2 separate regions of the Homo sapiens genome follow, and region 1 is linked to region 2. Evidence: fine-mapped expression QTL. A gene starts in region 2. The other region holds a variant in brackets. All regions are shown on one strand. Distances are between the middles of the regions. Region 1 overlaps B3GALT6 (beta-1,3-galactosyltransferase 6). Region 2 holds the start of TNFRSF18 (TNF receptor superfamily member 18).

The links. PIP is the estimated chance that this variant, and not a neighbour inherited with it, causes the effect.
Region 1: its variant is fine-mapped to the expression of TNFRSF18 in whole blood (TOPMed, PIP above 0.99).

The regions. Positions count from the first base shown.
Region 1 is chr1:1,232,564-1,240,860 of GRCh38, forward strand. B3GALT6 (beta-1,3-galactosyltransferase 6) reads left to right here. Exons shown (of 1, transcript NM_080605.4): 1 at 1-2,478. The coding sequence ends at 705. Among named protein-coding and RNA genes, the nearest start is that of B3GALT6, 4.5 kb to the left of the region's middle. RefSeq lists enhancers at 1-73, 74-755, 1,540-2,041. The variant A/G (reference allele first, on the strand shown) is at 3,434.
Region 2 is chr1:1,201,879-1,210,150 of GRCh38, forward strand. It overlaps TNFRSF18 (TNF receptor superfamily member 18), which reads right to left and starts at 4,714. Exons shown (of 5, transcript NM_004195.3): 1 at 4,507-4,714; 2 at 3,492-3,614; 3 at 2,521-2,608; 4 at 2,156-2,358; 5 at 1,630-2,090. The coding sequence starts at 4,693. The coding sequence ends at 1,966. RefSeq lists silencers at 3,297-3,497, 6,370-6,459, 7,040-7,149 and an enhancer at 6,294-7,173.

The DNA of each region.
Region 1 (8,297 bases), 31 kb after region 2:
GTGGGCACGGCCGGCCTGGGCGCCGAGGAGCGGCGCGCCCTGGAGCGGGAGCAGGCGCGGCACGGGGACCTGCTGCTGCTGCCCGCGCTGCGCGACGCCTACGAAAACCTCACGGCCAAGGTGCTGGCCATGCTGGCCTGGCTGGACGAGCACGTGGCCTTCGAGTTCGTGCTCAAGGCGGACGACGACTCCTTCGCGCGGCTGGACGCGCTGCTGGCCGAGCTGCGCGCCCGCGAGCCCGCGCGCCGCCGCCGCCTCTACTGGGGCTTCTTCTCGGGCCGCGGCCGCGTCAAGCCGGGGGGGCGCTGGCGCGAGGCCGCCTGGCAACTCTGCGACTACTACCTGCCCTACGCGCTGGGCGGCGGCTACGTGCTCTCGGCCGACCTGGTGCACTACCTGCGCCTCAGCCGCGACTACCTGCGCGCCTGGCACAGCGAGGACGTGTCTCTGGGCGCCTGGCTGGCGCCGGTGGACGTCCAGCGGGAGCACGACCCGCGCTTCGACACCGAATACCGGTCCCGCGGCTGCAGCAACCAGTACCTGGTGACGCACAAGCAGAGCCTGGAGGACATGCTGGAGAAGCACGCGACGCTGGCGCGCGAGGGCCGCCTGTGCAAGCGCGAGGTGCAGCTGCGCCTGTCCTACGTGTACGACTGGTCCGCGCCGCCCTCGCAGTGCTGCCAGAGAAGGGAGGGCATCCCCTGAGCCGCCGCGGCCCGGCCCTCCGGGACACCTGCTTCACCCGGCGGCGCCTTGGGGCAGGTGCCGAGCGGGCGCACTACGCCCGGGCCCCAAGGCCCCCGTCCCGCAGCCACGCTTGTGGTCGCTGCGTCCCGGTCTGCGTTTGGGAGACCCCTGGGGGTTGCCGGGGCAGCGCGCCGTGTCCAGGTGGAGGTGCCCGTTCCTGGACCTCAGCGAGCCTGAGCCGGGCCCGGCCGCACGCTGACCCCCGTGCTGTCCCCGACCGGCTCACGGGGCTGGGCTCCGATCTTCCGTGTCTCTTATCAGTGGCGTTTCTCACGTCTGCGTCTCAGATCTAACGTGGTTTCACATCAATCCGCTTTCATGGGATTTTGGTCTCTGTCCAGTGACTTCGTGGTAAATGTAACTCAGTGTTTGCTTGCGACTTATTTATAAATATTGTAAGTTTGTGTCGATGAGTGTAAGTTGGCAGTGCGCACGTCTCGGTTTTTTTACATGATTTAAGGAAAGACTTTTATGTCAGAACTTGGTGCCTGTACCGTCAACCCCGCTGCTGCCCGTGTTTAAACGCAGGAGAACTTTAAAACTGGCCATCTATCTTTTCAGTGTACAAGTCACTGAACCCATTGTTTCTTTCTGAAGAGACTTTCCTTTCAAGGCTTCCCATGGGTCCGCGCCACACAGGGCCGGTGCTGCTTTATTTCAGACTCTGCCCCAGGTTCCAGGAATCCGAACCCCGGAGTGCTGACGCGGTTCCCCAACTTCCGCCTTAAGAAAACAGGACCAGCCGGCACCAGGCCCGTCTCTCACGTACTTTAACACATCCTTGAAAGCCCCTCGTTTAATGAGAAAAGCGAACACTGCGGTCCTTGCCAAAGTAAAATGAAGCTGCCCCAGGACAAGGGGTTACCATGAGCTCCCTGGAGTCCGACGCGGGTTTTCTCTCTGGGGGACCTGGGTGGTCCCCGCTGTGGTCTTTGTTGTCCCACTTTGGGACCGGGTCCAGTCTGGGGTCTAGTCTCGAGCATCAGGGTCAGGCTCGGGGCAGGGCTGGGTTAGGCTCCGGGTCAGTCTTGCCATGGGTTTGGGAGCAGGTTTGGGTTACTTGCGTTTGAAGGCAGCAGTGGTCTCAGGAGGAAGAAACGGGGGCGGGAGAGAGTGGTGATCTGTGGTCAGTGGGTCAGTGACCTGCACGGTGATTCTCCCACCTCCAAAAGGTAGGGGTGGGACTGGAGGCGTCCCTAGGTCAGGCCGTTGAGTTCGAGCTCCGATGGGCCACCTTGAATCCAGGACTGACCGCCCGTGTGTGCACAGTTTGTTCTTGGACGAGGACTCGTGAGGATCGAGGGCTGGGGACCCCGGTGTGAGCAGGATGGGGCCCTGCCCTCCCGTGGGAGTTGTGGACTCGAGCCCAGGGGCTGCCCGTCACAGCGGTGTCCCAGGTCCCTGCCATCCGATTTTACCTGGGATGTCTTCTCTGGAGTTTGGAATTGCTTGAGGAACCCTGCGTGTGCTTGGAGAGGCCAGAGGGCTTGCTGAGAACCCCATGGACAGTGGAGAGCGGGATTCGAACCAAGGGCTGGACTCCCACACCTCTGGCCTGCGTCGCCCAGTTCTTTGTGGCTCTGAAGAATTGGCCGCTGTGGAAAAGAGCAAATGTCCGAGACCCCCAACAGGAAGAGTCTAAAAATCCAGTTTGCAACCACTTCTGACCTACAAAAAAATGGAAATTTAGTGTTTTTCAGCCTAAGACATTAAATTTCATATCAGAACAAAGCCTGCCCCAGGCTGACCCTCCCCAGCCGTACCGTGGTGAACGGGTTCAGAGGATACGTGGGCTGAAGGCTGGGCCTCGGGAGGGCTGGGGGCTTCCAGAGCCGGGGCAGCTGCAGCTCTCTCTGGTCTCACCTGGAACTTGCCCTGTAGATCCTCCCTGCCCTGCGGCTCCAATCGACCGTGCACGGGCCGTGGCATCCGTCCCCCAGGCGTCCTTCCCTGGTCTTAGCTTGTACAGCTCCCCACCCACCCAGGTACTCGGTTCCCGGAGACCAGGGCCAAACCAGGAGGCCCTCGGGAGATGGGGGGTCACCGAATTCATTTCCATGTGGGAACTTGGGATACAAAACAGCCAACTCTTCCTCAGCCACACGGATGTTTCTCCTCTAGTGGCCCCGAGAACCTACCATGGAGGGGACAGTGTCAGGGCTGGACGGGCACGGCGCAGCCACACGCACACAGCCCCCAGGAGGCACAGGGCCGGCAGGGAATGCAGGTCAAGCCAAGAGGATGGGCTCTGGTCCCTTCAGGATCCCCCAGGAGGAGAGCACCCCCTTCTGCCCTCTTCCTGGGGACTATGGTCCTGCCTCTCTGCCCCCTGAGGCTGGCATGCAGGCACCTGACGTTGGCTCCAGCTCTCTGGGCCAGCCCTGGGTACCCGCCGGGCCTGTGGCCTGGTTGGTCACCCCCAAGATGCAAAGTGCTACCTGCATCCGGAGGCACCCCCGCCCCTGAGGCCTCCAGGTTCCCACCTGCCCACCTGTGTCTGGCTGGGATCCTGGCTGTCAAGGCTCCTGTTACGGGACTGAACTGTGCCCCCTAAAAGATATTCCAAGCCCTAACCCAGCAGCTACAAACTGACCTTGTCTGGAAGTCGGGTCTCTGCAGGTGGAATTGCGTTAAGGCAAGGTCCTGAGGTGGCCTTACTCCCACGGAACTGGTGTCCTTACCAGAA[A/G]AGACCTGGGAAAAAGCCACTGTGTGGCTAGAGACTGACACCCAGGCGATGCCTCTGCAGGCCAAGGATTGAGGACCCTCCACCCCCACCCCACCAGGCAAGGAAGGGCTCTACCCAGAGTCAGGAGCGTGGCCTCCAGGGCTGCGAGGGAAGACGCCCCGTCCAGCAGCCCCAGGATGCCAGCCCAGTTCCCTGTGCCCGGCGCTCTTCGGTGCAGACGCAGGCAGGGGCTCCTGCAACCTTGTGGCATCACAGACGCCCAGCACTGACTGGGCCCAGATCTCCTCCCCGCAGGGCTCAGCACACACCCTGTTCCCGGCAGGCCTCCATCAGTCCAGCCTGCAGCAGGGCTGCCCCCGCGGCCTGGGTCACCCCAGACTCTTCCACCCTCTCCCTGGCTGACTGTCCCAGCTCAGAGTCCTCAGGTCTAAGGGGGTCACGGCCCTCCTGTGGCCCCACCGGCCCCAGGCTCCCCAGCTGTGGCACTGTGAGACCAGCTGACGTTGCAGGAATGGAAGCCCCAGCGGCCCAGACGGCTTGGGGAGTCCTCGGGAGCAGGTGGCCAGAGACAGGTGCGTGCCAGGCCCTCCGCACCCAGAGCGGGGCCGGGAGGAGAGAGGAGGCCCCTTGTTCGCGCAAGGCCCTGCTTCCTGGGCCCACAGCAGCCTGTCAGAAGTTTCCAGCTCCTTGGACTGGCTGTGTGGGGCCTGCTCCCTGGTTTCAGGGGCCTGGGAAGGGCTTGGCGCTTTTTCCTGGTTTCCTACTCTGAGGTGAGCTGGCGTCTCCCTCTCCCACTGTGGGCTGAGGGGAAAGACCTCTGTGTCCATCCCACAGGCCTGGCCAATCTCTGGGGTCCTCAAAGAGGAGGCTTTTGAGGGGGCACAGCCCAAACCCCTGGGCCTCCCCTTGAGGTCTCCTCCCAGCCCCCACCCAGAGGACCTTCCCACAGCCTTGGGAGCTGAAACCCAGGCCACCCCATCAAGTTGGCCTCTGTGGGTGTACACACTCCTTTCCCTCAGGGCCAGGGTGGGTCCCCACCCCCAGCACTCACAGCCCCTCCTTCTCTGGCCTCCCTGCCCTCCGCACCCTCCCTGCTAGATGCTGGTGCCGCTAGCCCTGCCCTGATGGCCACACTGCACCACGCTGGCCAGGTCAGAACCACCCGAGGAGAAGAACCAAGATCTGGCCCCACCCTGTCCTCCTCGGAAGGTCTCTCTGGGGCCCACCCCCTCCTCCCTCCCCAAGGATCTGAGCCTCCCTCACCGAGGTTCCCAGTGGAGGTAGACAGTGGATGAGTGATCCCAGGAGAGCTGGCTGCAGCCAAGGGGCTGAAGGGAGGTGGAGGCGGGAGGGGCAGGAAGGAGGATCTGGAAGGCCCCAGGCGCTCCCCACCCATCCAGCCTCGGCCTCTGTCCTGGTCGCGTTGCCCAGCGAGGCCTCTCCTTGGGCTGGGGCTCGGGTACTCTGCCCTGGTCGGGGCCACAGATGCCGCAAAGTCCCCTCAACTCAGCTAGCCAGGGTGCAAGACCGCGCCCACAGCTGAGAAGCCAGGGGTTACGAGTGTGGCCCTGCCAGGACCTCCTCAGCTGCATCCTCCAGAGTAAACACAGGTGGCCGCAGATCTTCCAGGGCCGGCCGGGCAGGCAGGACAGGAGCCCAGGAGGGCCGCAGTCCAGCTCCCCTCCCCGCTGACCCAGGGCCGGACCCAGCCCGGTGACTGGAGCAGAAGGAAACCCAAGCCCCAGGCCCTCCCTCCGGTGGCATCCGAAGGTCTCAGCGGCCCCAGCCTCCCCCAGGGGCCCCGCACCCGCCACCGCCCACCTCAGACCGGAGAGAGAGTGAGGGATGGGCAGAGCCAGGCCCAAGTCCCCGCCGGGGCGACGGTCACGGTGCCTCACCCTCAACCGCCTCACCCAGACCTTCCGACCCAGGAACAGCTGAACTCAGCCTAAAAAGCACCCGTCCCGAGGGCCTGAGTCCGGCCGTGGTGCCTCCTGCTGCAGAGATGTGTTTTGCACACTCCTGTGTGGCAGGGAGAGGCCCGGGCGTGCGGGCTGGGGGCCCAAGGGGTCTGGAGACGCTTCCCTGCGGAGACGGGGTTTGCCCAGCCCCCACCTGTCACGCTTCTCGTCACCCCCAAGTGAGGGCCGTGGGCGCGGGCGGGGTGGGCAGGAGGCCCTGCTGGGCTGGGTCACACGCATGACACCTGGCTGTCGCAACACAGATATCATCACGCCCGGGCACCCGTGAGTCACTGGCCCAGAGCAGGGGCTGCCCCCAGCCTCCCAAACAAAGACCCTTTGTCCCCAGGCCTCTGGTGCCAGGCCCACCTGTACAGCAGTCAGATGCGCAGGCGGACAGACACGCCGGTGGCTCGGCAGGCACAGGCAGGGCCAGGGCGTGTTCCCGCAACCAGACACGCTGCCATTCCTGGGTCAGGGTCAGGCTGAGGGAGACCCCTGGGGGACAGGCCCTGAGGTCACCATAGCTCAGAGTGACCTGAACTGGGAGTCCAAGCACAGACTGGCCAAGCCCAGCCCGTGAGCGACGGCCCCAGGACGCGGCGCCGAGCTCTGCCCCCAGCTCCAGCTCCCAGCGGCGTCGGAGCACAGCAGATCCCAGGGCAGCGCTCTGCAGGCAGGAAAGAGCTTCCCCTTGGGACAGCGCGCTGAGCAGCCCCCAGCTGAGGGTGGGAGCCCCGTCCCTGGACCCCTTCACGCAGTTCAGGGAGCCCCACATGCCGAAGCAGCCGTCACAGCTCCATGGGCCCCTCTGCTGTCCCTGGCAGGACCGAAGCTATGTGGCCTCCCGGACGCCAGGGACCCCGGCCACGCCCGCTCCAGGCACTGAGTGGCCAGCCAAGCGCTCGGGCCCGGGGTCCTGGACGGCTGTTCTGGGTTTGTTCTCAAGGGGGCCGTGCTGCTGGCTCTGTAGAGAGTCCCAGTCCCAGGGCAGAGACCCACACAGATGTGCAGACACGTGGGCACACACGCACCAGTCGCAGGGACACACAACTGTCAACCCGGGGTCAACACGGGGCACCTGGGTACATAGATTTTTACAAAGCAGGGCAGGCAGGTCTGTTTGGACCCTACACAGCCCCTACATGCCCCCAGGCCATTCTTGTTCCAAGGCCCAGATGACAGTGGTCACCAGGTGTGGTGTGGTCTGGGGTCTGGGACAGGCCCCAGGAACGCCCTGGGCTTACTCCAGAGAGGCTGGCAGGCAGTCCGAGGGGCCTTTGGAGCAGACACCCTCCCAGCTGCAGGGCGGCAGGGGCGGCAGGGGTGACAGAGGCGGGGAGAAGGATGCGAAGACAAGATGCCAAAGCTGGGCCTCCAGCGCCTGCCTGTCCTGGCTGCAGCCCCAGGGTCCACACCCAGGCGCCCCCAGGGGCCAGGCCAGGGCAGCCGCATCTCCTACGTACCCCAACAGTGGGGCCCTTGAGGCACCGGGGACGGATGGGCAATGGTGTCCACACCTGACAGGCGGGGCCGGAGCGGGGCCCAGCCTCCTCCTCACAGCCAGGAGCCCCCAGCCCTGCCTCCCCTGGCTCCTGCTGCCCCCTCAGGGTGGCTGCCGCACCTGGCCCCAAGAGGACTTCCTGGCTGCCCTGAGCTCCCGTCCGCATTTCTGTCCATTCAAGACCAGGACAGCACCAGGGCTGGGAATACTGGCTCCGACCCAGCCGAGGCAGCCCCGGGGCAGGGTGGGTCAGGCAGGTCCAGCGCTGGGACTCTAGGGAAGGGCTGGTCCTGTGAGCAGACGAGCTGGAGGGTTGGTGGGGGGAGTGTCCCCGCACCGGGCATGGCCCCTCCCAGGATGGCAGGGAGCCCACGGCAGGAGTGTCCGATGCCCCCAGCCCCGGCCAGGCAGCAGGGTCGGCCTGCGGTTCTGGGAAGTCAGCCCTGGTGGAGGTCACGGAGAAGCCGGCAGCTCCCTGCCGCTCAGGGCATGGGGTCAAGGGTCAGGGGTCAGGGGTCGGGTTGAGGCCGTCCGGCACGTAGCCGGCTGCTCTGGCTTTGCTCCTGCCAGGGTCCACGAAGCTGCCAGACGCTTGGGACACTCAATACCCCAGCTCCCAAACCGGGGGGCACAGGCCTGAAGAGATCCGTTTCCCTGGGCTCCCCAGGTCCCCCAGCCAGCCCAGACCCCAAGCAACAGCAGCTCTGGCTGGCCTGCACCTGCCCCGGGGACCCCACGCTCCGGCTGGGTGAGTGACAGGCATCTCCCACCCTCGTCAAGAGTCCAGGGTCCCTTCTATGGCAAACATTGCAGTGTGGGTCCAGCCCAGGAGGTGAGGCTGAGAGAGAATGAAGGGGTGCAGCTGGGCTGGGCCAGAGGATGGAGCCTTGGCTGGGTGGGCTGGGAGCCTGGACCCTCCTGTGAGGCCGCCCACCCCACCCCGACCTGTCCATTCCTTTGCTCCTGGGTGCCCAGAGGGGGCTAGAGATGGCACATTCCAGGGGAATTGCGGCTAAGTGGCTGATCACCTCCCACTGGGGCAGAAACCAGGAGGCAGAGGCCAGGGAGGTGGTGCCAGCACCAGGACATCCCCACGCCCCCCATTCACCCTGGCCCCAGCCCCCCCCATTCACCCTGGCCCCCATGCCAGCCCCCAGCCACCCCCGACCAGCCCCCATCCCCCACCTCATTCACCCCGGCCGTGGTCCCTGCCCCAGCCCCCGCCGCCCCCATTCACCCGGGCCCTGGCCCCCAACTCATTCAGCCCCGGCCCCCCGCCCCACCACTCCACGTCTCTTTGTCTCTCATCACCATCTTGCTCTACGCGGCCCTGGGTCCCATTTCTGGCATGTCCATCTGTCATCACAGCTCCTACCTCCGGGACTGGGTAGGGTGGGGG
Region 2 (8,272 bases):
ACCCAGCCTCCAGCCCAGTACCCAGCCCCGAGCCCAGTACCCAGCCTCCAGCCCAGTACCCAGCCCCGAGCCCAGTACCCAGCCTCCAGCCCAGTACCCAGCCCCGAGCCCAGTACCCAGCCTCCAGCCCAGTACCCAGCCCCGAGCCCAGTACCCAGCCTCCAGCCCAGTACCCAGCCCCGAGCCCAGTACCCAGCCTCCAGCCCAGTACCCAGCCCCGAGCCCAGTACCCAGCCTCCAGCCCAGTACCCAGCCCCGAGCCCAGTACCCAGCCTCCAGCCCAGTACCCAGCCCCGAGCCCAGTACCCAGCCTCCAGCCCAGTACCCAGCCCCGAGCCCAGTACCCAGCCTCCAGCCCAGTACCCAGCCCCGAGCCCAGTACCCAGCCTCCAGCCCAGTACCCAGCCCCCAGCCCAGTACCCAGCCCCGAGCCCAGTACCCAGCCCCCAGCCCAGTACCCAGCCTCCAGCCCAGTACCCAGCCCCGAGCCCAGTACCCAGCCTCCAGCCCAGTACCCAGCCCCGAGCCCAGTACCCAGCCCCCAGCCCAGTACCCAGCCTCCAGCCCAGTACCCAGCCTCCAGCCCAGTACCCAGCCCCGAGCCCAGTACCCAGCCCCCAGCCCAGTACCCAGCCCCGAGCCCAGTACCCAGCCCCGAGCCCAGTACCCAGCCCCGAGCCCAGCACCCAGCCTCCAGCCCAGTACCCATCCCCGAGCCCAGTACCCAGCCTCCAGCCCAGTACCCATCCCCGAGCCCAGTACCCAGCCTCCAGCCCAGTACCCATCCCCGAGCCCAGTACCCAGCCTCCAGCCCAGTACCCAGCCCCGAGCCCAGTACCCAGCCTCTAGCCCAGTACCCAGCCTCCAGCCCAGTACCCATCCCCGAGCCCAGTACCCAGCCTCCAGCCCAGTACCCATCCCCAAGCCCAGTACCCAGCCCCGAGCCCAGTACTCCACGACGCCGAAGGGCCGGGTCCTGCCTCCAGGGCTGAGCACCTTCCCCAGTGTCCCTGTGCCACCCTTGGGCTCTCCACACTCCAGGTCCCATGTTGGGGGGGGAGGGGAGCAGACGTCCCCTCTGCCCCGTCCACCTACTGTGAGCTGGGCCCACCGCCCCACTGGGAGCTGAGCTGGGGGCCAGGTGTGCTGTGCCTCCAGGGTGCTGCTGAGACGCCTGCACCAGCCTGCCCGCCACTCCCCGGCAGCTGAGGGAGCCTGTATCAGATCTCACCTGGAGCCTGGAGTGGGAGGCTGGGCGGGCCGAGGGTGGGATGGTGAGGAGAGAGGGCTGGCCTGGAGACGGGGCCGCCCAGCACCAGAAAGTGCTGGATGGCACCCGGGGGCCGGCAGGCTGTGTGGCCAGAAACCAGAGACCCAGGGGCACCAGAGAAGAGCCCCAGAACGGGGGAAGCCGCTGAGCCTGTATCCCTGAGGAGCGCTGGGCCCAGGACTGGAATGGCCCCTCCTCGGGCCCCACCCCCACCCAGCCAGGAGTTCCCAGAATGGGCCCTGGCTGCCCTCCGCTTTGCCCCCTGTGGAGGGGACCACGGCCAGGCATGAGCACGGTGCCCCAAAGCCCAGCCCCGGGTGCCCCGTCCTCCCCCAGCACCCAGCATGCATCCACTCAGGTCACTGGACAAGTGTTTATTGAAGGTCCCCTGCAGCCGGGTCCCGTGCTGGGCACTGCACACCCACGGACACAGCCTCCCGTCCTAAGACCCCACCCCATCAGGGCCAGCAAGGGAGGAAGGGGGCCATGACTGTGTCTCTCTCTCCCTCCTGCAGGGCCCAGCCGCGGCCGCCGAACTGCATGGTCCAGGGCGCTGGTCACTGCCACCTTCCTGCACCCACTTCTGCTGCCAGGGGAGCAGGGCCCGGCCCAGAGCAGAACGCAGAGCCCCTGCGGCCTGGGGAGCTCCTGGGGAGGGGCTGGCTGCGGTCGGTGGCCCCGGAGGACGGCCAGGCTCACACCCACAGGTCTCCCAGCCGCCCCTTCTCCTCTGCCGATCGCTCGCCCCGCTCTTCCTCGGGGAACTGGCAGCTTCTGGCGTCTTCGGTCGACGGCGGCACCTCCAGCAGCAGCTGGGTCTCTGCAGGGGGGCCACGGTCAGCAGGCAGCCATGCTCCCACCTCCCCGCACCAGGCTGTGACAGACCTCGGGGCCACATGCACTGACTCCTCAGCTGCCAGATGTGCAGTCCAAGCTGGGCCGAGGTCAGGAGGAGGACGCAGGCGGCCACGGCCAGGAGGACGACGGTCAGCCACCCAAGCGGCTCTGCCGGCGGGGACCCTGGGACGCACACAGCGTTGTGGGTCTTGTTCCCAGGGAACACAGTGAGAAACCCGAACTGGGTGCAGCTGGAATACATGGACGCGGCCTCCTATCAGCCCCCGGACACGGCCTCCGATCAGCCCCCGGCTGCTGCCCTCCGTGCTGTCTGGGGCAAGGGACAGGAGAGGACCCTTCCTCAGAGTGGGCCTGGACCACCCGGCCACCGGCAGGGCCCACCCAGGACTCACTCTGTCCAAGGTTTGCAGTGGCCTTCGTGGCCCCCGGAGAAGGTCCCCGAGGCACAGTCGATACACTGGAAGCCAAAACTGAATTTCCCTGGTGTGGGGTGTGGGGGGAGGGAGGGAGGGAGGCTGGTGGAGTTGCTGGGATGGATGAGGAGGGCGTCAGGCCAGTGCAGGGGTCCATCTGGGGTCTGGGTGCTGAGTAGAATGCCCCCCCCATCATCCATTCAACAGAGTTCTTCATGGCCCAGGACTGGGGCCCATGTCTGCCCGTCCCAGGTGGGGCGTCTGGGGTGGGGCCCAGTGAGGGCACCTGGGGGAGGTGCGCAGAGTGCAGTGGGCCTGCCAGGGAGGGGAAAGGCCTGCCCATTGGGGGCTGAGGGTGGGCAGAAGCCAGGCAGGACCCAGTAGAACAGAGGGTGGAGAACAGTGAGGGTCCCAGAGAGAGTGAGGCTGGGTCCCAGTTGACCCCAGACCCTGCCCCGTCCAACCTGACACAACCTCCCCAGTTGTACCTTCTCCCAGCTCTCATGTGCCCAGCCTGACCTCTCCTGTCAGGTAAACAAGCCGCTAAGAGGACTTGAGCTGCTCCTTCCAGAACAGGGTGCAGCCCCAGGCCCCAGACAGGACTCCGGGGGGCACAGGGCAGGCTCTTTCAGTATGTGGTGAGGACAGACAGGATGGGTGTCCCGGGCCTGAGAGCCAGACAGCTCCTGGAACCCGCCCCCACCTCCCCGCAGGGTTCTCACAGCCCTCGTGCTGGATGGAGAAGCCCAGGCTGAGAAAGCAGGGACAGGACACCCCCAGAGCTTCATGGCCTGTGGTGCCTGAGCATGGCCTGGCCTGCCCGGCCTCACAGGACTCCGGACCCCACACACCACATGTCCTCGCCGGACACCTGTGCCCACGAGCTCTGCCTCGGGCCCTAGTGGAACCCCTGGCCTGTGTGGACTCCCAGAGGCACCTCCAGGACTTACCCTGGGACTGTACCCCCTGGCCTGGGGGACAAGGGTGGTGCCGGCAGGTCGTGCAGCAAGGGTCTCCGCAGTGGAATTCAGGCTGGACACACATGCAGTCCCACTCGGAACAGCACTCCTCGCCTGGGCAGGAGACAGGCCAGCCCCCCAGCAGCTGGGCTGAGGCCCCCTCCTCCCCAGGCCTCCCCTCGGCCCTCCAGGGGAGTGAGGTTGTCCGTTCTCCACCCACAGTTGGCTCCAGGGAGCAGAGGGCTCCTGGCTGGGAGTCTGGACCCTGGGTTTATCCAGCTGTCTCTTTCTCCTGGGGCCATGTGGCCTGGCTACTCCCCCTTTGCGCCCCACAGCTGCCCCTGCCCAGGTGCTAACTCCATATGCAACCAGGAGCTGCCCCTGCAGGACCCAGGGGTGGCCCCCAACAGTGCACAGTCCCCTGGAGGCCCGTCGACACCTCAGAGGCCGCCTGCCTGGTGTCTGGGCGCTGCTGTCCCCACCACCAGCCACACTGGGCCTCCGGACAGAGCCTCCCTTCCCAACCCACAGGCCCTGGAGGAAGAAGCTCTGGGGTGACTTCCCTGCCAGCTTCCTCTCCAGACCAGCCGTGTCAGCTGAACCCTCATCCCCAGGTGCAGGTCAGAGGCAGGCAGCAGGCCAGACGGTGGTGCAGGGGGGCCCTCAACTGGGCAGGAGGGGGCTGGGCGATGGCCAAGGGCTCACGACCCGCCCAGCAGGACCTGGAACAGCCGTCCTCCACCTCCAGACCCCAGACCCCTCTTGAGGGCGCTCCCACCTGGCTCACCCCTGCTCCCGGCCGGGGCCACTGGCTGGAGCTGGCACACCTCCGCCTCCCTCTGGGATCCTGCCTCCCTCCGGAAGGCTCCCGCTGCTGGCGGCTCTGTGCCCACCCTCCTTAGACCTCAGCAACGCCGGTCTGAGCACGGGAAGGGGGGCGCCCACCCATCCCGGCTTCCGCGGGACGCCTTGGCCGGTCCGCGTTAAGTAAACGCGGTTTACTTACCCGGGTAATCGCGGCAGCAGCGCGTCGTGTGAACCCGGCAGCAGCGCGCGTCCGTTCCCGTCCCAAGCAGGAGGCGCCCAGGGCCGCACCCGGGACCCCCGGTGGGGCGCTGACCCAGGCTGAGCGCGCACAGCAGCGCCAGGCCGCACAGGGCCCGAAACGCGCCCATCGCCCCGTGCTGTGCCATGCTCGGGTTTCAAGAGCCCACAGCCAGTTGGACACGCCCCGTCCCCGTCCTCACCCGCCCTGCCCGGAGGTGGCTGGGACCGTTCATGACCTGAGAATCCCGACCCAGGTGAAGTGCGTGTGAGGAGGGGGTGTAGACACTGCGGACACAGCCCGGTCCCCCGCAGGTCGCCGGCAGGGGCGGGGAAACCAGGCTGGCGGGGATCAGAAAGGTTTTCTATGCAAAGTCTGCGGCCACATTGGTGTCCCCAGTGCAGGGGGCGGCGTTTATAGCACCTTGTCCCATGGGGGCCCCTTGGAGGGCGGGGGTCAGCCAATCACTCCTCCATCCCACTGCCTCCGGGTGGTATCTGCGAGTCCCCGAGAGGTCTCCACAAATTCTGGCCACCCCCAGAGAGCCTCAACCATGGAGCCCCGTGCTGGGGAACCCCACAGAATGGGGACAGGGACCCCTCGGCTCAGCACACCCCACCTGGCTGGCTTCAGGTGTGAAACTCACCATGGGCTGCAGGCCTGTGGGCTCCCCTCCCCCTTGCTTGCAGCTCTCCAGGACCCCCCTCAGGCCAACCTGGGAAGTTCCCCGGGGCTTGGGAGGGGCACCAGGAGGAGCTGGTGGGGAGACGAGAGGGTGCTGGCGCCTCCTCGGGACAGTGTCAGCCGCCCCCGCGGGCACCCAGGGCCCGGTCTCTCAGAGCCACCTTCATCCGTCACACCAGACAGATCCAGGTCCCGGAGGGAGTTGAGGAGGAGCCCCTCGCAGAGCTCTTGGGAGACTGTCCTATGTCTTTCTGAGCCTCAGTTTCCCCTGTGGGCACCGAGGGGTTCTGGGACCCTGCCTCCACCAGGAAGCCTCCCTGGATTGCCCAGCCCTGCTTCTGCGCCGTCCAGCACAGGTGGAGACCCCCATGAATGCTGGGGGTGGGGGCTCTCGGGAACGTGAGCGTGGATGTGGTTCAACACCCTTTTGAGACCTGCAGCCACCGCCTCACCCCGTAAGGCGGTTCCTCCTTTTCCAAGGTAAATGACAGGAATTAGCTGTTTGTGACACCCCGGAGTTCTCAAATCCAAGATGTAGGAGCCTGCCTTGGAGAGGCAGCCCTCAGACACTGCAGAGAAGGAAGGGGTCTCTGCAGCTCCAGGCCGCCCCGACGCTCGGAAGGAAAGGGGTGGGGCCAGCTGGGCCTGGGGGCCTTTGAGAGGCCTGGAGATCTTCAGCCCCGAGGCTGGGAGGGGGTCTGGGCCCCTGGATAGAAAGAGGCGCCATCAGTGGCTCACGCCCGTAATCCCAGCATTTTGGGAGGCCGAGGTGGGCCTCGGATCACCTGAGGTCAGGGGTTCGAGACCAGCCTGACCCACATGGAGAAAGCCCGTCTCTACTAAAAATACAAAAAAAATTAGCCAGGCGTGGTGGCGCACGCCTGTAATCCCAGCTACTCGGGAGGCTGAGGCAGGAGAATTGCTTGAACCTGGGAGGCAGAGGTTGCGGCGAACCAAGATGGCACCATTGCACTCCAGCCTGGGTGACAGAGCGAGACTCCATCACAAAAAATAAAGAATGCTCATCAGACCACACGGTGTGAGTCATCCATCTAGAGGCAGGGACAGAGTTAGAGGAGCGAGCAGTTTATGGGGCCAAGTGGGAGGCGGCCAGCGGGCAGAGGAGCCCCTCCCCCCCGCCCCGTGGCGCAGCTGACACTTTGAACAGCCGGAGAGCAGCTTGCCACACAGGGTGGTCCCCGGAGGGGCTGCAGGGGTGTGACGTCCACCCTCCCATCCCTCTCGCCGCAGAAGGCCCCTCCCCGGCTCCCCGTGACTCCTATCCTTGGGCTGCGAGGCTGGAGGTGACTTGTTCATCTTATTGAGCAGCTCACCGGTGACACAAATGACGGGGCATTCACACAGCAGAGCAGCCCACGGGCCGGGCGAGGGACAGCCCTTGCGTACGTCCAGAAGGGCAGCTGTGAGGCCCCACGGGGAGGGTGCAGATGGGCACTGAGCCAGAGTTCAGGCAGGGCCTTCGGCACAGATGGCACAGGAGTTGCCAGCAGAGATGGCGTCAGGCGAGGGGGCGGGGAGGGTGAGCATGGAGACCAAGAGGAGGTGGCCCCGTGTCCATCTGGGGGTGCGGCAAGGGGTCCTGCTGGGGAATAAGTCCCACGGGGCCTGGGGGGTGCTGTGCCCAGAGGGGAGGAGACAGGAAGCGATGGGTATGGGCGCCAGGTTTGGGGAGGAGGCCCCTTTCCCATAGCCGTCGACCTGCGGGCCCCACAGGATCTGGCCGCTCCAGTCCCGGCCACCTGACCCCTTCCCCCACCCACCCGCCATCCTGCCTGGAGGTCTGGCCTCGCCTGCCCCACGGGGCGGGGGGCGGGGGGCTCTCAGAGGCGCGGCCCCAACCCTGTGCAGGGCCTGCAGGCTGAACCGTGTGCAGGAACCCGGGGAACTCGGTGAAGGTGCTGGATGGGGGACAGGACGGCCTCTGACTTCCCTATGCTGCGGGGGGGGAGGCTTGTGGTTAGCAGAGAGTGGGTGGAAGACAGAGGTTTGAGGAGAGAGAGACCCAGGGGAGAAAACCAGCTGCAGAGGCAGGAGGGGTCCAGGGCAGCCCGAGGCCAGAGATGGGCGTCTTCCTTACAGCCACCTGTGGTCCCGGCACCTTGGGCTGTTGTGAGTGGCGCGTGGCGCTCCCACTGTGCACCCCCGGGGCCGGTTCCCCACTTCCACGACACCGGCAGGGGGGAGCCATCCGCCAGGCACAGGAGGCCTGGACAGCCGTGGGCAGCGTGCGCTGTTGGAGGACGCAGGGAGAGGGAAGGCTGGCCCAGGGACGCTGTGTGGGGCAGCGGGTGCAGCTGCGGGGCTGGGCCACACCAGCCACGGTAGCCGGAGTGTCCAGGCTGTGCCAGGCCCTCAGCAAAACCTTCCATGAGGCTTCATGTGTTTCTTCTTAAGTAATTTTTTTAAATTTCTTTTTTTTTTTCCAGTCACGTCTCACTGCAGCCTCCATCTCTTGGGCTCAAGTGATCCTCCCACCTCGGCCTCCCAAGTAGCCGGGACCACAGGCATGCACCACCACACCCGGCTGATTTTTTCTATTTTTCATAGAAAAGGGTCTTGCCATGTTACCCAGGCGGGTCTCAAACTCCTGAGCTCAGACGATCGTCTGGCCTCAGCCTCCCAAAGTGCTAGGATTCTAGGCGTGAGCCACCGTGACCGGCCTCGGCTGTGTGTTTCTTGCTCATGAGTGCAGTGAGGGCCAGGCGTGGTGGCTCACACCTGGAATCGCAGTACTCCAGGGCACCGAGGCAGGTGGATCACCTGAGGTCAGGAGTTCAAGACCAGCTTAGCCAACATGGTGAAACCCTGTCTCTAATAAAATACAAAAATTAGCCGGGTGTGGTGCTGGGCGCCTGTAGTCCCAGCTACTTGGGAGGCTGAGGCAGGAGAATGGCGTGAACCCGGGAGGCAGAGGTTGGTGAGCTGAGATCACACCACTGCACTCCAGCCTGGGTGACACAGCAAGACTCCGGCAAAAAAAAAAAAAGAAAGAAAAAACAAGTGCAGTGAGACGTCTTAGCCC